2 separate regions of the Homo sapiens genome follow, and region 1 is linked to region 2. Evidence: fine-mapped expression QTL. A gene starts in region 2. The other region holds a variant in brackets. All regions are shown on one strand. Distances are between the middles of the regions.

Region 1 (10,808 bases), 370 kb after region 2:
TATTTTTGGATTAAGTCAGGCCCTCCAAAAAACTTAGAACTATGAAACAAACCAGTGTTTAAGAAGACACATCCTTGGAATATGAGCAAGCCCATTAATTCTGTATTTTGAGTAAAAGGTGTTTGATCTTATGCATGCTGTCTTCCATGTCATCATTTCAAATGATGAAGAAACTACATCTCCTAATATTTGAGAACAAACTGCAAAAGTTGGTCCCTTGATTGTATTATAAATCCATAAAAAGACCCATTTTTAAACACAGCAACTTTTTAGGCAACTTCCTGTTTTTCACTTGAAATAGAAGTCAAACTGTTATAAGTGCTGTCTTCATTATTCATATTTAATTACACAGTGGCTTATTCTTCATTATTTTAGTGTATTTGTGAATACTCTAGCTATTGAGTAGAATACTGGTTACAAAGCTAGTCTATAAACAACATGAAATGAAGGGTGCTGACTCAGAAATTTAGAGTCCTCCACAATACCATATCCAATGGGAATTAAATCATTGTATTGTCTTGTGAGTCTTGAGGCTTATTTATCTAACTGATGTTTATCAAGCACCTTCCATGTGGCAGGCAGTATGTAGCTTTTATTTTATTTAGCAGTATCTTTTTTAAGATTATAAATTTTTTGTTGAATATTATTTGCAATCAGGGACACTTCTAAACTTAAGGAAAAACTTTACGACTAAAGTGCCAGCTCTCTTCAGAATGGCAGTGAAGGTAATGATTTGCGGTTCTGTGTGTGTATGAGTTTGTTATTATAAAATCCTTCAGCTCCGGGCTATGTACATTTATGTTTCAGTAGCATGTCTCATTAAATCCTTTAGTGCAGTACTTCTCAGTGAAGTGAGTTCTGATCAATGTGAAGGAATGCTGAGTGGGCACAATTGTGACTCTTGTTCTGAATATTACCTGTGCTTCCAGAAAAGTATTTTAGCAAGTGTATGACCCCTGGTTAATGAAAAGTGTTAAAATATATCAAATAAACTGTCTTAATTGTTCTTTTAATAAAAATATATGTCCACTTGGAAATAATAATTTCACTATTTTAACGACTGTAGTTGTTTTGGAAATTTGTTAGATAAAGGCTCCAACAGCATAAACTAATAGTTTTATATTACCAGATTGCTTCCAGATTTCTCTTTTCTGTTCAGTGAATAAGAATAGGGTGTAGGATCAAATTTCTAATGATTTTCTCCAGGAGAACCACTGTTACGCAAATACCGAATTTATAACACTTCAAAATAGACATCAGGGCAAATTTTACAAGACCTATCAGTTCATTTTTATTGTTTGCTTCTGTAGGTAGTCATATAGAAGACCAAAAGAACCATAAAACACTGTTTTTACATACATGATGATAGGAGTTAGGTGGGGTAAAGTTTACTAATATTTGTTAAGGAACCTACTACAGTAGTTCCAACTTTATTTTGGACACTTACATTTGTTTGTCATTATCTGTCCTCTGTTCCCAAATTGCCTTAATTTGTATATCATCATCTTACGTATTCACTGTCATTATCTCAAGTTTCCAAGGGTTTTTGCTATGTCACTATTTTTTACCTGTGCCTATTCTATTTCTTTTCTTTCTAATTTGTTTATTAGTTCTACAGTGTTATTGTTTAATTTATTGTTTCCTTCTGCAACCTCCCTTTTTATCTCATTTTTTTCCACTGGTGTCTCATTTAATTTCTATTTTCTTTAATCTTGTAGTGTAATGCACTCACGGAGATTTTTGGAGGAAGGTGGAGAGGGCTGTTTTCTTCTAAACTAGATTCTTGCTTCCTTCCCAGCCCTCCCCCTTTCTTTCATTTTTTTCTTTGCTCTGGGAGTCCTGCTTAGTTGTCATAGTCTTTTCTCTTTGTAAAACTTAAGTTGAATATGAACAACTCACTCAGGATCTTTTCTTCATTCTCTAATGTTGGTGAATTGTCCTTGTCTTGCTTTTTAACCGTCTCTAATTAGACCTCGGGGTCTAGTCCCAGAGCTGCATTCAGTTTGAGGAGTCGACCTGAAGACCCACATGCTGGAGATGAGGTAGAGTTAGTTGAGCTGGGCTGCGTGCTGGGATCCTACAATCCCAGTTGTTGGTAGGATCTTTGCTCTTCCTCAGTAATTGTATTAAATGCCCTGCATCAGGGTTTGCTCTACATATTCACAGATATATCTCTGGAGGAGTGAGATACGGGGCTTTGGATTATTCCTCCAATTCAAGGAGGTGCTTGCAAGCCATTTGTTTGATTAGTTTTGGCTAAGAATGTCAGCCTCAGGTGTCTCCTTCCCTTGCCACATCCTATCTTTCCCCCAGCAAGTGTTTTTATCTCTTTCCAGCTAATGGAGAAAGGAGAAACCTGTATGCTTTTACCATGGCATTATTAATCCACAGACAGGGAAGGGAACCTCACCTGGGAATTTTCTGCCTTTAATTCTCCTTCTCTCCCAGCCCTCAACACACACACACACACACACACACACACACACACACACACACACACACACACACCCTTATTTATTTTTCTCTTTGGCTAGACCTTTGTTTACTGTTTAAGATACAGTAAACTCTGATACAGACTAGCGAACCTCATGTTAGCACCAACTAAGATTTAACACAACTGGCAATTGGCTATCTCCTTCCCTTCATCCCAGCCCTTGTCCTTGTTTTATTAGCTCTACAACAATGAGATCCCACATACATGATTGAATTTGTTAGACTCCTACATACAGCTTTATAATAGAGTTTGGCTGTAATTAATTAGCTTTGCTTGATTATGACTCATTTCCCTTTTCTTCTCCTTTCCTCCCAGGCATAAAAAGCCAAAATGGTGAGTTCTGATTTGCTTTTCTGTGTCTGAGGAGATTCCTGTGATGGCAGGAAGAGCTTTTTACTATGGATGGATTTTTCCATCTCCTCCCTGGGCTGCCAAAATGCTAGCTTAGATCCATTTTCCCCAAATTGGGGGCTGTTAATGATAGTTTTCAGGATTTTGGCCACCTAACTTTCCCACCTCCAATGCAATCCCTTTTTACCTAGGAATCTTCTATTCATGGGCACCGCTTATACAGAATATGGTATGATGTTCTCTTTAACTTGGTTGGTCTCTGGTAACATTTTTGACTTTTTTTTCTTTTAACAGCGATTTTAAGTTTATTCCATTAGGGGAAAGATTCTATAATCTGGCTTTATTATGTCTTTTTTTTTTTTTTTTTTTTTTTTTCCTCTTGAGACCGAGTCTTGCTCTGTCGCCCAGACTGGAGTGCAGTGGTGTGATCTCAGCTCACTGCAACCTCCGCCTTCCAAGTACAAGCAGTTCTCCTGCCTCAGCCTCCCGGGGAGCTGGGATTACACTTGCATGCCACTACGCCTGGGTTTTGTATTTTTAGTACAGATGGGGCTTCGCCATGTTGGCCAGGCTGGTCTCAAACTCTTGACTTCAGGTGATCCACCTGCCTTGGCCTCCCAAAGTGCTAGAATTATAGGTGTGAGCGATGGTGCGCAGCCTATTATGTCATTTTAGCCCAAAAGTTCTGTGCTAGGCACTTCAGGTTTAAGACTTTTAATCTTTACAGGCCTGCTCAATAAACCATAGTGATATGATCCCTCATTCATACATGAGGAAACTGAAATTTGAAAGAGTGAGGGTTCCCAATGCCACACAGCTAAAGGGTGGAATATCAGGGTCAAATGCAGATGGATCTGTCTCCAAAGCCTGTGGTGTCTCCACTTCAGTGCTGCTGACTTGTGCTGCTGTCTGATGCTGGGTACCTCAGCAACCCTTCTAGGCTTTAGTTACTTCGTCTACAAAATAAGGGGCCTGGCCTGCAAGGTCCTTCCCAGCTCTAAACTTCTATGTTTATGGTTAGTGGAATGAGAACACTACATTTTACTTTAACATAAATTTACTTGACTTTACATTTAATAGCAATGGCCATATATTTCAAGTTTAAATATATATTTACATATTTCTGCAGTCGGGAATTTTAGATTATATAAACCTTTTTGTTTTTGCAACTCATTTTTCAGGTGCTTTGGAATTTCACTGCTGTTCTTTTTAATGTATGGTGTTTGCAATTGTAAAGTTTGGAATTTTCATTCAAATGTGAATTTTTTCTCTTATTCTGTCTTGGTTTAACACTTCTCAGTGTGCTGAGAATGCCTGAGTTGGAGGTAGTTTGAGAAAGTGGAGCAAAGCAAAACTAAATAACTCGTTTGGAGGTTAAACCTTCACCCTTGACCTAAACAAACTGAGTTAACGAACCAAAGATTACATTATGGAGACTACAAACCCCTGCTTCTACAAGTTTATAATCTAAAAGATAAACTGTCTGATGTCAATGTACGTCTAAACTACTCAGTAAACATACCCAGTAAACGACAAACATGTCCGTGTTCACAGTTGCAACGTAATAGTGATGTAGAAGCTAGGAGTACAGTGGAAATAGCGATTGTCTGTTAGATCAGGAAGTACAGAACATGAAAGGCCACTGTGGACAGAATGGATCATCGTAGGAATAAGGTCACATGAGGCAGGACTTTGAAGATGGTTGAGTAGAGACGAGGAAGCTGACTCACATCTCTCTCAGCCACTCCAAGCTTACTCCTTAGTCAAGTGCTGTTTAGCCCTCTGCCTACAAGAATGCAGCCTCCCTGATCTGTTGCCCAGGAATCAGTATTTGTTTTTCACTGCCTTCTTTCTAAATGTCAATTCCATCCCAAAGATGGGATCCTTAGAAGTATTGAACCTATATTGGCCTGTCTCTGCATAGTGTAACTTAATTGGGCTACTTCTAACCATGCTTTTCTCTATTTTGTTTATTTGGTATTCTTTGAGGACATTATATGTGCCAGACACTTTGCTAGGCCTTAGGTATATAGTGACGAGCAAAAGAAATAGTAATTAAGCTGATACATTTGTAGTGAATCAGAAAATTAGCAATTCTAGAAAAGCAGACAAATAATTAGCAAAGAAATCAAGGAAAAGGATAAGGTAGTAGGATAGAAAATAGCTGAGAGTGCAGTCGGGAGCTACTCAGTAGGTGATCAGGTTTGTTGTTTGTTTTTTGTTTGTTTGTTTGTTTTTTGAGGCAGGGTCTCACTCTGCCACCCAGGCTGGAGTGCAGTGGCATGATCACAGCTTTCTGCAGCCTCAACCTCCCAGACTCAGGTGATCCTCCCACCTCAGCCTCCCGCATGCCACCACACTCAGCAAATTTTTTGTATTTTTTGTAGAGATGAAGTTTCACCGTGTTGCCCAGGATGGTCTCAAACTCCTGGGCTCAAACGATCCTCCTGCCTCGGCCTCCCAAAGTGCTGGGATTACAGGTGCGAACAACTGTGCCCGGCCAGGTCATTTCTTTATTTCATCCCTTTTCTCATATATTCCAAGTCTCTTGCTCAAGCTGTTTAACCACTCCCTTGTGGACTTTTTCT[A/G]AAGCCCCATATCTAGGCTGTTTGTCTACAGAATTGATGATACTTTTAAACTCCTTTTAGTTAAAACCCAAGTATTTGTTCAAACCCTGTTGTGTTTTTGGCTCTGTGCCAGACATGGTGGTGTTTACCATGTAGTTCTAAGGCCCTGTAAGATCCCTAGAAGGATCTTAATTCATTTTCTATCCTTCACTTGCTGTGATTTTTATCTCCCATGCCCATGTAACATGGGGTCCAGAGTTGAGATGAGTGTCTTTCTTGTTCCTTACTGCCACTTCCAGACCATTTATCTTGCAATTAAAAATTCCATTTCCTTTTAATTTTAAGCCATTGCACTATTCTACCTACTACTGTTCTGGACACATTTTGTACAGCTTCCTGTTGATTCTGACCATCATTCATAGAAGCTTTTGAGCGCTGGTTTGACACCTCTTCTTCCCATGGCTGTCTGTCATTCTTGGAAACTCCAGCTCTCAGGTAGAAAATTTATCCAGCTTTGGTTCTCTTAGTTCCTTGAGCACTTTCCTTCCAACAATCTTTCTTTCACTCTATCTCAGCCACCCACTCAGGCCATTCTCAACCAGACTTGGCCATTATAAGTAGCTGTACCACCTGTGAAACCTCATCTTTAAGCACTGTCTTTGACAATTCCTGTCTTTTCAACTCACTTACTCCATACCTGCATCAGAAAAACTGAACATGACAGAAGGAAAAACCAGCAATACTACTCCTGACTGGCTTATTAAATTGATGACCATAAGGCTCAAGGGGCCCCAAATTTTCTAGTAATCTTAGCTGGTCACTTCTCTGGGAAGGACTCATTCATAGTTTCTCCTCCTCTCTCAAACCTTCAGTATCCCTTCCACCTTCTCAGTGGATGACCTCACTCCCTGTTTCCCTGAGAAAATAAAAATCATCAAAACAAAAAATCTACTAACCTTTTACACACACTTTCTTACCATATCCTTTTTCCTTTCACCTACTGAAGTTACATTTTCTTTCTGGCATCATCACTTTGTTCTTCTCTCTAGTGAATTATTACAATCAGGATACAGAGTGTTAAAATTATATACATAGCCCGTTAAAATCTTTTAAAAATCCCTTCTTATCTTCCCCAACACCCCCGCCCACTCCCCACTGACCAGCCCTCCTCCAGCAAGTTTCTTTCTTGGCTCTGCAAGCACACACTTATCGTGAAGCTCCTAGAGAGAACATTTATTGTCTCTTTGTTGCCTCCATTTCCTCCCCTCCCATTTTCCCTCTTGAAGTCATGCCAATCAGTTCTCTCATGACTCAACTACTACGCAATCCACAGCGGATCCATCCCTCCTTCCTGAAGCACTTTCATCACTGGTGGCTGCTTATCACACCCTCACATGTCCTGACTTCTAAATAGTGGAATGCGGGCCTCATTTTGTTTTTAATCTCTTCTCCACCTACACTCATATCCTAGGTCATCTCACCTTTCCCATGGTTGTTTTGTTTTGTTTTGTTTTGTTTGAGATGGAGTCTCGCTCTGTCACCCAGGCTGGAGTGCAGTGGCGCGATCTCGGCTCACTGCAACCTCCACCTCCTGGGTTCAAGCGATTCTCCTGACTCAGCCTCCTGAGTAGCTGGGATTACAGGCGCATGCCACCATGCCCAGCTAATTTTTGTATTTTTAGTAGAGACGGGGTTTCACCATGTTGGCCGGGATGGTCTCGATCTCTTGACCTCATGATCCACCTGCCTCGGCCTCCCAAAATGCTGGGATTACAGGCATGAGCCACCGCGCCTGGTCCTTGGTCCATGGTTTTAAATACACCAATGATGCCTATAAACTGATGAGTCCTACATTTAAATCTCTAGCCAAAGCTCTCAACCGATTTCTAGATTATTCCTGTGCTTCCACAGCTTCTAGTGCCACTGGTATGTCTGATGCCATCTTACATTTAAGGTCAAAAGATTCCTGAAGCCCCCACACAACTCAAACCCAACTTCTCCCCCATTGTTTTCCATCTCAGTCAAAGTAGCATCCTTCCCTCTCTTCCCCACCCACCCCACAATTTACCTAGTTCCCTGGCCCCAGTTTCTCTCAGTGCCCACATGAGCAAGACCAGTTGCCTTTATCTTCAAAATATATCCTGAACCTACAGTATTACCACCCTAGTCCAAGCAACCTGCAACCATTCCTCTCTGGATTCTTGTAATTGCTTCCTACCTGGCATCTCTGCTTCCATTCTTGCCCCTGCCCGCCCCATACTCTTTACATGGATTTTTTAAATAGATAAATCAGACTGTGCCACTTCCCTTCCCAGAGCCCTGCGGTGGTTTCTCATCATGAAAATAAATAGCTCTCCTGACCCAGGCCTTGCTTAGCTTTCTGACTTCCTTTTCTACTGCTGGAGACAGTTAGAGGTGAGCACCCTGTAGAGAGGTGGGCCCTCTATTAGGTGGAGGGGAGGGGAGGAAAGGGAGGAAGGGAGGGAAGAAAGCGAGAAAACACCAACAACTCAAAGAAGAATCACCACATAAACAACTGTGCCCACCAGGAACATGCATCTTGCCTGCTATTATCTAATAGTTGAGATGTGAAGTGGACTGGCAAATTTGTGGGTTCTGGTTATGGAGAACTGACCTAGGTTGATATTCATTCTGCCAGAGCCACTGGAATTTGTAGTTTCTGAAAAGACTTGTGTTATTTGGCAAAACCAGAATTGGGCATCATTTATCTTCATGTACTTAGCCAAAGCCCTAGAAAAACTTTTTTGATTCTTAAGAAAATGATCTAAACCCAATAATCCTTGCTTCGTTTATTTTTAACGACAGGCCCATTCTGTAGAGTTTTTCTGTATGAACTTACCCGACCTCCTGTAAAAAGAAAGATCTACCTTGGATATAGAAATTTATTTATTATCTGTTTCATTCTGTTCTTTTCTGAGAACAGCAAGTTTTCCACGTAGTTCTGTATACATAATCCTTTTTTTAAAGGATTGCAGGCACATTTTATTGTGAATTTGGCCATGGTTTAATGATGTATAATGTTGGATTTCTTCATATCTTAAATATTAAAAAAGCTTATACAGAAGTAAAGGGAAAGGGGAAGAAGGAGAAAAGTAGAAGAAGAGAATGACTAATGCTTTGGTTTAACAAATAACATTGTGAAATAAACCATTGATATTTTGTAAGGTAAAAATCTTTCAAATCTACTCATTATTATAATAATAAGTAATAAAATACTCATCTCACAGGCAGTTCAAAGGAACCCCATTGACTAAACTTGGTAATTAATTGGTAAGCTTTAATGGACAATATAATAAATATTTTTCTTGTAAAAGCTTGACCTAGTACAATTTTTGGTGAAACAGTTTGCTTTTACAGAATAATAAAACTACAAAGACATTTTGAGAATTAAGTCAGCTGCATGATGTGATCATTAAGCTATTTGCTATAAAATGTACATTCAAATTATTAGAAGTTCAAAAGAATTGATGACACATTAGAAATGTATTTTCTGTTTTTCATATGAAACATAAAAGCTCTAGAAGTTATGGGCATAAGTGAAGTATGCATGTTTCCTTCTCTCCCTTCTTAAAAAATCCATAATTGTTCTCTGTTTAAGCATAGAAAAATGCCATGTGACTTTTATTTCTCCAGAAAATTAGGAATAACCTGTGGGCATTTAAGGTTATACTAGAACATGCATAATGAGTGAATTCCTATTAATTCCATGTTATATTGAGGAAAAATGCTTCAAATATACGTAACTTCCACCAGAGTAGTTAGCTTTTTCTTAGCTATATTTGGAACTTTGATTACTACTCTTAATCTCTTTCAAAGTTTAATTTTATTAAATTGCTCAAAGGTAGAGACAAAAGGTTATGGTGTTTTTCTTTTTTCTTTCAGCAAATGAAGAAAATACAAATTTGCTACATGCCTATGGGAATTAAGCAGTATCATAGCACTGGTTGGTCTAGTTTTAAAACTTCAGGACTGCCGGGCGCGGTGGTTCACGCCTGTAATCCCAGCACTTTGGGAGGCCAAGGTGGGCGGATGACGGGGTCAGGAGATCAAGACCATCCTGGCTAACACGGTGAAACCCCGTCTCTACTAAAAATACCAGAAAAATTAGCCGTGGCAGGCACCTGTAGTCCCAGCTACTCGGGAGGCTGAGGCAGGAGAATGGCGTGAACCAGGGAGGCGGAGCTTGCAGTGAGCCGAGATCGCGCCTCTGCACTCCAGCCTGGGCGACAGAGCGAGGCTCCGTCTCAAAAAAAAAAAAAAAAAAGTTCAGGACTTTATTTTCAAGCAAAAATCAAAGTTGTTTGTTGTTGTTGTTGTTGTTGTTGTTGTTTTTTCTGGATAACACCTAAGTTACAAACGTCTGTTCATATTTGTTTGAATCAGTGTTTAATTTTATTCTTTTATGATTATTAATCTACAGATTTCAAATGTAAGGAACATTGGAATAGTGAGTGATGTAGCAGCTAACTTTCTTTTTCTTTCTTTCTTTATTTTATTTTATTTTTTTTTGAGACGGAGTCTCGCTTTATCTCCAGGCTGGAGTGCAGTAGCGGGATCTCGGCTCACTGCAACCACCACCTCCCGGGTTCAAGCAATTCTCCTGCCTCAACCTCCAGAGTAGGTGGGACTACAGGCGCGCCCCACCACGCCTAGCTAATTTTTTTATTTTTAGTAGAGACAGGGTTTCATCATGTTGGCCAGCATGGTGTTGATCTCCTGACCTCATGATCCACCCACCTCGGCCTCAGAAGGTGCTGGGGTTATAGGCGTGAGCCATCGCGCCCGGCCCAGCATCTAACTTGCTATTTGCAAAACGGAAATGTAATGACTGAATATTTTCGTCAGTCCAAAAATTTGTGAAGAGAAGAATTTTAATAACATTATAACAAACAGTAATGTCAGTAAAATGGAAACTGAAATGCATGCATTAGCATGAAATATAAGACTAGGGGAAGAGACAGAAGATAGGTAACACTTTCATAAGAAAAATTATTAGAAAACATTCGTTCCCGAGTGAAAGGAAAGGTGAAGGTACTTGAAGAAAATGAACAATTGCCTTTTCACTCATCCAGAGTGCCTTTGAACTCATTCAGAGCTCTTTGTAAATCTAATCAATTAATGATGCTTGAAATATGTTTAATTTGGGTAGTTGAGGGAAGTATGTTCTAGAAGAAATGCAACCAAGATATCTTTTGGGTGAGAATCTAAGAGGAAGTGATGGATTGTTTGTTGATTTCACAGTAACTGAGAGGAAATCTATAATAGCTTAAAGGATTTTAGCGTAATTTTATGATGCTAACAAATTTGTGTCGTAAACTGACGCTAATATGGCCAGACTGCCAAGTGATGCATACTGTAAACACCGATAAGAATTG
Region 2 (10,808 bases):
AAATTAATACAATCAGCAATGTAGAAATGTATCTAAGAGATTAAATGAACTTGCTGGGGTTGGTATTGAGAGGGATTTACACAGCTTCTTGATATTTGGTGCTTGAATGGTGGTTGCTTGTGAGATCTAGTTATCTTTCCCTCGTATATTTACCATTTTCAGTGGATGTCTTATCTTGCTTTAAAACCCCAAGACCCAGCAAAGCCCTTTTTGGAAAAGGTGAGTGACCCTTAATCATGGTAGGGATTAGTTGAACTCTATCCCCTGGCTGAGTAAACAGGAGCCTGGAAGGAACAGGTGACCTGTCCAAGCTCATCTAGTTAAGTAGTTACAAATCTTCATCTTGACTGCCAGGACTGATCTTTGAAAAATAGACATACAAGGCCTTAAGATCTACCTGCAGGAGAGAAAACAGGTTTAAACTGACATGGAGATATTTTAGATTAAAAACTTCAGACTTAGCTATTTCAGTGAGGGGTTCCTCTAGTTTGAGTTGCAAGTAGGTCACCATGCTAAGAGCAGAAAACCCTACTCTAATTCCAACCTCTGACCTCATTCAATAATCATTGGCTTGATTCCATTTATGAATCAAGCTCTGTTAGCGGCTTCATGTGGGGACACCCTGTTCTGATGAAGTTCATCTTCTGGGACACAGTGATACTTCATTTAGGTTTAGGAAGCAGAGAAGAGGACTGGGGTAAATCAGAGGTGGGTGTCAAGGTATCCACTGGAGAGAAAGGGAAAAAGGACTCAGAAGAGAATTTTAAAGTCACAGGAGTTATTGGATGTGGTAAGTGAGAAAAAGTGCCTGATGACCTCTGCAGAGCTGACCACTTTTTCTGAAAAAGAAGTGTCCATGATTTAAGAGTCATTATAATGAAAGATACCATCTTTCAGCTATTAAGGAATAATATTAAGGCAAAGATGAGACAAGATAATCATTCCCTACTTTGGAGCTGGGGGGTAGAAGGAAGAAGACTACATAAGCTAGGTCAAAACTGAGTATTAAAAGTGCTCAGCTGGGCGTGATAGCTCACGCCTGTAATCCCAGCACTTTGGGAGGCTGAGGCAGGCGGATCACGAGGTCAGGAGATCAAGACCATCCTGGCCAACATGGTGAAACCCCGTCTCTACTAAAAAAAGATACAAAATTAGCTGGGTGTGGTCACGTGTGCCTGTAGTCCCAGCTACTCAGGAGGCTGAGGGAGGAGAATCACTTGAACCCGGGAGGCGGAAGTTGCAGTGAGCCAAGATTGTGCCACTGCACTCCAGCCTGGCAACAGAGCGAGACTCCATCTCAAAAAAAAAAAAAAAAAAAGAAAAGAAGTGCTCATACTCTTTGTACCAGTAATTCTATTACTAGAAATTATTCTTAGGATAATAAGATGTGGATAGTTTTATAAGCAAACATTCACTGTAATATTTATAATAGTAGTAACTAATAAAGGATTTGTTAACACAGTAGTACATTTTTACAATAGTTTTATGTATCCATTAAAGATTTATGAAAAGTTTCAGTGAGATAGTGTATGCATGATACAAAACTAGTGAAGGCAGTATTCTCCTTGGAAACAACAAAAGAATAGCTGGAAATAACCACTAATATGTTGATTTTTCTGGAAAGTTGGGAGACCAAGTTGCAAAAATGCATTTCTGTTTTCATTCCTTGCAAGTGACAGTTTAACAAAAAATTTTCCTCCAAATTTGGCTAGCCAGCAGCCTTTATGGAATTTTAGAGTATGGACTGTCAAAATAATTTCTCTTTGCTTTTGACAAGCAACAGTGATGGCCTCTGTATTAGTCTGTTTTCACGCTGTTGATAAAGACATACCTGAACCTGGGCAATTTAGAAAAGAAAGAGGTTTAATGGACTTACAGTTCCACATGGCTGGGGATGCCTCATGATCATGGCAGAAGGTGAAGCAGGAGCAAAGACATGTCTTACATGGCGGCAGGCAAGAGAGAATGAGAGCTTGTGCAGGGAAATTCCTCCTAATAAAACCATCAGATCTCATGAGACTTACCACTATCATGAGGACAGCATGGGAAAGACTCGCCCCCTTGACTCAACTTCCTCCCACCGGGTCCCTCCCACAACACGTGGGAATTCAAGATGAGATCTGGGTGGGGTCACAGCCAAACCGTATCAGCCTCTTTCCTCAAAACCTATGCACTAATGCAATTGCCTCATGAGTTTACATGTTTCTTCCGCATCTGGAAGAGGGTCATTCTTTTCACTGACAGCAAGGGCAGAACTAGGTTAATGAGATCATGTCTTGTTCTGGATTGCAGTCTGTTACTTGGCATACAGTATGGTAGGTTGATTAAATGCATTCTAACTTCTCTACACTCTTTTAAAAAGCATGTATTGAGGTGATTACCTCAATAGGTGCTACCAACCCTATCAGCTATGACTGCAGCTTCATGTAGTGGGTAGTGTATTATCTGTTCATACCAATTCAGTCAAGTTAGCCTCTTTCCTCTGTAGGGGCGGACTCACTGACATCTCAGAAAACATCTAATTGAAAAAATGTGCTCCATATGGAGTTCAAAATCTACAGGTTGTTGTTGTTGTTTTATAAGGACTCTTTCCTAAAATGCAATATGTGATTTTTTAATACATTACACTGACTACAAGGTTTTCATTGATGCCAGTCACAATGAATGTGCAAATTGTGTGGAATAAAGTGAATATTATGGTGCAGTCTTTGGAACTTTTCCTTGAACATATTCTTTCATCTCCCTGCTTTGGCCCCATATACTAATTCTTAGAGGCAGCAAGAACCATACTGACCCTAATGACATGTTCAGGACTATCTTTCCCTAAGCTTAACTTTTAAAGGAAAGGCAGAAGCCACCTGCTTCTGAGTGGCTATCCTCCTCTGCATAGAGACTGATAGGCCTCTCGAAAGCCTGACTGGGCAGTAGCCCACACATCATTTATCACTAAGACAATGGTCCATAAGGTGTCTCTTTGCTAACTCAAGCCCTTTATCTTATTTTAAATATGCTTATTCACGAAGAAAAGCAAAACAAACAAAAAATGTTCCATGACTATTTCTGCTCATTGAGAGATTTTGTTTTCCAAATTAGTTTCAAACAAATTGTGCTAAAGAGTGTACGTTTATGGACGTCCATCTCCTCCAAAATCTAGGTGAAAATCTCTTCTAAACCTACATGTGTTTGAATTAACAGAATGCCAAGGAAAATCAAAATTGGATCTAATAGCACTTTGGGAGGCCGAGGTGGGCGGATTGCTTGAGTCCAGGAGTTAGAAACAGGCCTGGGCAACATAGTGAGACCTTGTCTTTACCCTTAAAATACAAAAAATTAGACGAGCGTAGTCGTGCACACCTGTGGTCCCAGCGACTCTGCAGGCTGAGGTGGGAGGATGCTTGAGCCGGCGAGGCGGAGGTTGCAGCGAGCCGAGATCGCGCCACTGCACTCCAGCCTGGGCGACAGAGAGAATCCCTGTCTCAAAAAAACAAAAACAACTTCCCCAACCCCGCCCCCCGCCCAAACCCTCACAACTTTCTGGCTGTAGGAATTCTCGTTTTGCAGCTGAGGAAACAGGTTTGGAAATTAGACTGCATACCTAAAATCACTTGGCTCATCAACCTACAGCTCCCTCTAGGGGGCTGCCTCGCCCTTATTGGTTATGTGCACATTTGGGGTGAATTCCACGGTCATCTAACAGAACTGTTTTGGTAGTCCCAGGTAAACTTACGGTACGGAAATTTGTTTCTTGAGGATACAAAAAAGAAAGGTGTCAGGGGGAAAGTAAAAATTCAACTCCTAAAACATCGCGTGTAGAGTCAGGCAGTCACTTCATAAAGAGTTCAGTCGATGAAGTTTCACTCTTGAAACTTTACTGTATGTATGCAAGCCCTAACTATTAATACAGGTGACAGCATCCACCTTATCTTCCATTCTCCCTAAGCCCTGAGGGTGGGGATGGGGGGGGGGGCACTCCAATCACCTGAGCCTAAGAACATAGCCTAAGAACATGTGTCTGGCATGGTCTGGTTATTTATAGCCTAAAAAAAAAAAAAGCCAGCTTCTTGTCCGATTCAGGCTTTCCCTGCCCAAACCCACTAGCTTAATGCGATATTGACATTACCAGGAAATGCATACGTCCCAAATGCATCTGCTTATAGATGTTTTTACCTCCTGAAATAATACCGGGTCACAAATACTGTTGTGTTTTTTGCAGAGAGCTTCTACTGCTCATTTAATTCAGGGGCGTTGGATTTGTGCTGAGCGTAATTTGACTCCAAGCATGCAAACTGATCAACTTCTTCCCGTGTGTTTGGGGAGTACAAGTGACTACTGCGACTCCTCAAATGTTTTTCTTTTCCTTTTCACGTGGAGGAAAGCGAATTCTCCGAAGACTGTTCGGCGTTCTACGCAGGGGTTGGAAGGGGGGTTCCTGAGTCACCTCTGGCTGCGCGGGGGGCCTGTGTGTACCCTCAGGGACACCAGGCTGGAATCGTCCACCTTACTTTCAAATGATAAAAGTGCGGAGGGTCTTTCTGCCCCTAAGTCGCGTACAGGATTGCCTGTTTACGGAGTACACTTTCACACACTTCTTTCCCGGTGGTGCAGTCTCGTGGCGGCAGAGCCTTTAGGAAGGCTCTGGGGGGAGACAAGATCAGTGGCGACCACGCCTCCCATGTTACAGCGCTCGCTTCCTACTGGGGGTTGGCGGGGACACCAAGGCTCTCCAGCCCGGGAACACGGAGTTCGGCTCCGTTGTACCCAACTGGAAAGCTGTGGAAACACAAAACTCGGGCGGCGACAGCACCAGCCGATTTTCCGCTCTCTTGGCTCTTTCTTCCGCTTGCACCGCCCCCACCCCGGCTCCTCCGCTCAGCACACAGGAACCCACATCCCCCACCACTCCCGCGTTTCTCTCCTGCCACCAGCTGGGGCCTGCCTTTTATAGGCGCCGCAGCCAATGAGCACGCTTCTTTCCTTCTGCCCGCCCGCCTGGCCAATCGCCGCGCCCCTTGTGTAATCTCCGGCTAGTCGGCTGCTTTCGGCTATTTTCGCTGTTGCTGGCTTTTTCAGGAGCTGCTCGCTCGCAGCCAGAGACGCTGCTTTTTTTTTCCGGGTTCGGAGCCGTTCCGGATGCTTTAGGCTGCCGGATGTCTGATCTCCGAATAACTGAGGCGTTTCTGTACATGGATTATCTGGTAGGTGCAGGGCAGGGGTGGCATGTCGCCTCTCGGATCTCGGCGTGCCCGATGGCCCCCTGCCTTGAGGAGCAGCCTTTTTGCTTTCTTTCTTTGGGATAGGATGCCTCTGGGGTTCTTTCTCCCGCAGCCGGCTGGTAAGCCTTTCCCTGGACTCGGAGGGGCAGCCTCCAGGGCGGGTGGGTGGTGGAGCTGACAGGTAAAGGTGCGGCCTGGGCCAGCACGGCTGCAGGGCGAGGGTCGCGCTGGGGCTGCTTGAGAGATGGGGCGGCCGCGGCGGCGCGTCCCCTGCCCGCGATCGGCTTCCTGGCTTCCCTCTGCGCTCTCCGCAGAGGACTTTCTTTCCGGGGGAGCAGGAGTTTTCCTCTCTCCCTGGAGCAGAACTCCAGGTGCTATTAAAGAGCCATAACCAGAATGGCTCACTAAGTGCCCAGCAGCCCTGGTCATTTGATTGTTATTAAATCTCTAAAGCTATGACCTCGGTCGTGGCGGGGTTTTAAAAGCACATTACCATAAAGCAGACGGGTCTAAACTACCTCGCAGGCTGGCACGAACAGGACTGAGTAGGGACAGGTATAGCCCCACCATTCCGGTCTTGGGTGCGTGCCGCGGTTCCACTGTGCACGGATTGGAACCCGGCTGTTTAGGCCAGGCTTGTGCTGAGAAGTTTAGGTGGGAAAAGTGTCAGCACAGTGCTGGGACCGAACATCATTTTAAAAATGGACTTCTATGTGTCTTTGTGGAATTATGCGAGCACCATGTTTTGTTCCAGAAATTATATTTCCCCAGAGTTGCTTGTTTGCGTTTAAGGGGATCCTCATTTACAGAGACTTGTGTTCGATCCTATACGATTATTGTGTTTACCATGTTGGGCAGAACCGCTATTGCCATGCAGAGTTGAAGTAGACGGTTAGAAACATTGACCCTCCTGTCATCTTGTTGGACACATGCACTCGGTTTTCGACTGCAGATTGGCCTGGCAGAGATTTGCCAGTGCCTTCTAGGAATTACACTTAAGGCTGTACTGAGAAAGTCTGTGCATGCTTTGATGGCCAAGAAACGCCGGACCGGCTTTGTGCTGTTATCTGTGTATTTGGGCTTATTTTAGTGTACATAAAGAAAATGTTTCTCCTAATGCTTCAGAGCTTGATGGTCTTGTGGGAAAGGATGGTGACTGCAGTTAATGCATAGCCTTGTGAATGGAGCTGGATCTAAAATTCTGAATTCAAGTTCTGTTTTGTTGTTCATTTGTTGATGGCAGTAACTTCCTTTATCTTTGTGATAAAGGGATATTATTCACCCAGTACTGTAGCTGGTTACGGGGATTATCTGATTATGAACATTCTTCACAATACAAGGTGCCCTGTAAGTTAAGAGAGCTGCCAGAAGATTATTTTCTAAGTTAAATAACTGATTTAATTTGTAATTTATCTTATAAAATACAATACATGGTTTTTGTCTTGCAGTCTGCCTAAATTAAAGCGAAAGTTTGTTGGGATAATTACCAAGTAGGAAAGGGTGACATTGCCTGTACTACTAAAAGCTAATTTTGAATACTTAAATAGTTCTTAAAAAAGAAAATCAGGTGGTTCTGACATTTTATTATTTTCTTTATTTACCGGATGTGTTTTAAATTTATAAATTGCATCACAAAGCTGTCTTTGAGGTGCCAAACCTATCAAAATGCTTAGTGAAAACAAAATTGATAACTCTGGTTAATTACTCAGGCTAACCTCTAGATAGGCATAGTCTAAAGGTGAGTGGATGAATGTTTGTGGGCCCAAGGTTACCTTAAAAGCAGATTAATTTATTTGCCAATTTACTAACAGCTTTGTGTCAAAATCAACAGGTCACAAATTTGACTTGGCCTTTTTGTTTTACCTGGGCTCAAGTTTACCCTAAAAGCAGATTAATTTCTTTGCCAATTTACTAACAGCTTTGTGTCAAAATCAGCAGGCCTCAAATTTGACTTGGCTTTTTAAAAAGCTTTACTTGCCATACATCTTAGTTTTACTTTTATATTTAAAAAAAATCATTATTTTGCCACTTTATCCATCTAAAATTCACAAGTGCAGTGACCAACCCCATAAAAGCCAGTGGCTACTCTTTGGAGGTGAGAAAAGAAATCTTAAAGGAAACAGTTTAGTTTTTGTGAGTGTGCCAAGTGTCCCCTGTGAAAAGATTTCAGAAAATTCTTTAGCATTAAACTGGATGGAAACAAACAGAAAAACCATCTCAAAACAAAAAACTAGCCCTCCCGAGGTAGCCTTTTTGTGTTCACCTTTTGCTTGTCGACTTTCAGAGAAAATGATGTGCCACACATTATTTTTCTCTTCCTGTCTTTCGGATTGACTTGCTTGCTTATGCATACTCTGTGTGGCGTTTATTAAAAGCCCTATTTCTGAGGAATAGAAATCAATTTATTTGCATCTGGTATCTTATTTTATTTTTAAAAAATTCCTGAGTTCTTTTACTTACCTTGCAGGGAAAAAAAATGCTCCTTTCATTCCAAGTTTGACTCCAGATTTTGCTGAATGGATTAGAGTAAGTTCCCTTTCCATGCACTGACAAGAATGATGGTGTGTGTCATTTCTTTTTAATCAGTATTTGACTTTCTTGTGTTGTTCCTGTTGGAAACTGGAAGAGAGAGCTGTGTGTGTGTATGTATCTATTGTTCATTGTTCTTTGGGCTGGATGTCGTCACTTAACCTTTTTATTTGGAGGAGAGTGGAAAGGAAGAAGGGAGAGAAAGGTGGAGGTGCTATTTTGTCTTAACAGGATTAATCCTTTTAATAAGATTGAGATATTAAAACAGATGAAGAAGCTCTACTGATCTTCGGGTCGCTGTTGATTTCTTAAAACAAATGTTCTCAGAAGTGACAGTCAAGGTGAGGGACAGGGATAGTACTTTAATATTTAAGACAGGGTTTTATTGATTTCAGTCGAGAGAAAGAATAGAAATTTGCTAATCCTAATCAATTAGATGTATCACCTGGTGCGGTGCCTGACTTGGTTTCTGGCATGTATTAATAGTTAGGGCCCGATATTTTATTTGTTGAATCAGATGAATATGAAATGGAAAGGAAAATTCTGCTTTTTTTCACCAGTTTTTAAACTGAGACAAGATAAAATCTGTTTGGATTAGGTGTTTTGTTCAGGGGAATGCAGAATGTATCCTTTACTCTTAACTTGAAGATGATCAAGATATAATCCTTTTAGCCAGGGTGGCAATTTAAACATAAAAATCTCTGTTTTCCAGTTGATGAGTGAATCTTCCTAGAAGGGCACACAACTTTTCCCCTTTCCATGATGGGGTTTAAAGGCCATGTTTACATCTGCCAAGTCTCTGGGTAAACATTTAGCTGCTGTCCCAACAGGCAGTACCAGCATCTTACTCTTTCTTCTCATAGGTAGAACTAGTAACACAATGTGCAGAGCTTTTTGGATAAGGTAGGAGAAAATAGTCAGGTTAAAATGAAAGAGAAAAACACATTTCTCGAGTTTTCCTGGGAGGTTGGACAAGATCAACTTCTAGATTCCTTTCAGTTCAAAATTTTCTGTCTTGACTCATGTGATGATTGATCTGGAATTAACCTTTTTTCCCTCTGCGCCATCAAAACAACAGTGGTAGAATTGGTTGTACTCTGTGTAATACCTATGATGATTAAATGAGATAGTGGAGGGAAAGCCATTTGTAAACAGTACGTTGCTTTTCAAATATAAAATGTTAACGTATTGTGTGGCTGGGCGAGGTGGCTCACGCCCGTAATCCCAGGACTTTGGGAGGGCAAGACAGGCGGATCACTTGAGGTCAGGAGTTTGAGACCAGCCTGGCTGACATGGAGAAACCCCATCTCCACTTAAAATAGAAAAATTAGCTGGGTGTCGTGGCGCATGCCTGTAATCTCAGCTACTTGGGAGGCTGAGGCAGGAGAATCGCTTGAACCCAGGAGGCAGAGGTTGCAGTGAGATCGCACAACTGCACTCCAGCCTGGGCGACAGAGTGAGACTCCGTCTCAAGACAAAAAAAAAAAAAAAAAGTTAACGTATTGTGATTATGTTGCTGATGTTACTTTTATACCTCCTGTAGAATGACTGTTACTGCTTAGTGGTATTGAAATACCTTTTAAACTAGTCTCAATTTATGGAAATACTGGGAGTTGTAATCAACAAGCAGGAAGTCACAAGACTCTTTTAAGAATCTTTTAAAAGCTACGAAAATAAAACCCATTTGAATAATTTATCTATTCAACAAATATTTATGGAGCCCTTACTTTCTGCATGGCCCTGAAAGTCATGCGGGATGAACCCTCAGCTGTAATATCCTCCTTGACTGCAGGACTGGCAGTCGTGTGGCTCTAGAGGAACCTGTGGCAGGACAGGTTAAGTAAGGCACATAGGGGAGGGGGTAGCTTCTGATGTGCTTCTTTGCTTTCTAGTACATTTCTCTCATTTTGTGTGTTTTATTGTGAACTAAAATATAAACTTAGACTTGAAAATGTGACAAGTAAAAATGGTTGATTAGTCTTGGATGCTAATTGTCAATTAATATTCATTGCATTTGTTTATAGTAGCCTCCACCCTCCCATCCACGGTTTTACTTTTCAAGGTTTCAGTTAACCATGGTCCACCGAGGTCTCAAAATAAGTGAGTAAAGTACAATAAGATATTTTAAGAGAGAGAGAGACCACATTCATATAACTTTTATTACTGTATATTGTTATCATTGTTCACTTTTATTATTAGTTATTATTAATCACTTACTATGCCTAATTTACACATTAAACTTTATCATAGGTGTGTGTGTATAGGAAAAAATATAGTGTGCTCTGTGCTATGTTAGTTAGTTCTATGATAGCTCAGTACTATCTGTGGTTTTAGGTATCCACTGGGACTTGGAATATATCCCCCATGGATGAGGGGAAACTACTGTACCGTGTTGGGGATTTTTTATTTATTTATTTTTTTTTTGTGACAGAGTTTTGCTCTTGTCATGCAGGCTGGAGTGCAATGGGGTGATTCTCCTGTCTCAGCCTCCTAAGTAGCTGGGATTACAGGTGCCCACCACCATGCCCAGCTAATTTTTGTATGTTTAGTAGAGACGGGGTTTCACCATGTTGGCCAGGCTGGTCTCAAACTCCTGACCTCAGGTGATCCACCTGCCTCGACCTCCCAAAGTGCTGGGATTACAGGAGTGAGCCACCGTGCCCTGCCAGTGTTTGGGATTTAATAAGATTAGATTTGATAGGTTAGTTTAATAAGATTTCTTTGTATAGACTGGTGGACTTGACCTATTTAGTTTCTTGGTTATAGGCTGTATCTGCCATCATAAAAATGTATGTCTCAGTGGGGAAGATGTGGTGAGAGAATTGGGTTGATCATCACAAATCTGTCACCATTTGCAGGATAAAAACCAGCTAACTAACCAACAATAGAAACCCATGATGTGCTACAAAGGGTAGAGCCCACAGGCACTATGAAATTGTAAAGGATCCTACTTGAAAAGAGGAGTGAAGGTACATTTGTGATTTCATATTATGTTCAGTTATCTGTGAACTGAACTTCTTTATTGATAAAAAAAAAAGTACATTGTTTCGTTGTTTTTAACCCTGA

What was found.
Region 1: its variant is fine-mapped to the expression of ARL15 in monocytes after LPS (Fairfax 2014, PIP 0.95).

What each region holds. Positions count from the first base shown.
Region 1 is chr5:53,938,868-53,949,675 of GRCh38, reverse strand. All of the region lies in intron 4 of ARL15 (ARF like GTPase 15), which reads left to right. Among named protein-coding and RNA genes, the nearest start is that of MIR581, 7.3 kb to the left of the region's middle. The variant A/G (reference allele first, on the strand shown) is at 5,434.
Region 2 is chr5:54,304,819-54,315,626 of GRCh38, reverse strand. ARL15 (ARF like GTPase 15) reads left to right here and starts at 5,054. Exons shown (of 5, transcript NM_019087.3): 1 at 5,054-5,195. The coding sequence starts at 5,148. RefSeq lists a cis regulatory region at 1,946-2,293 and an enhancer at 10,292-10,808.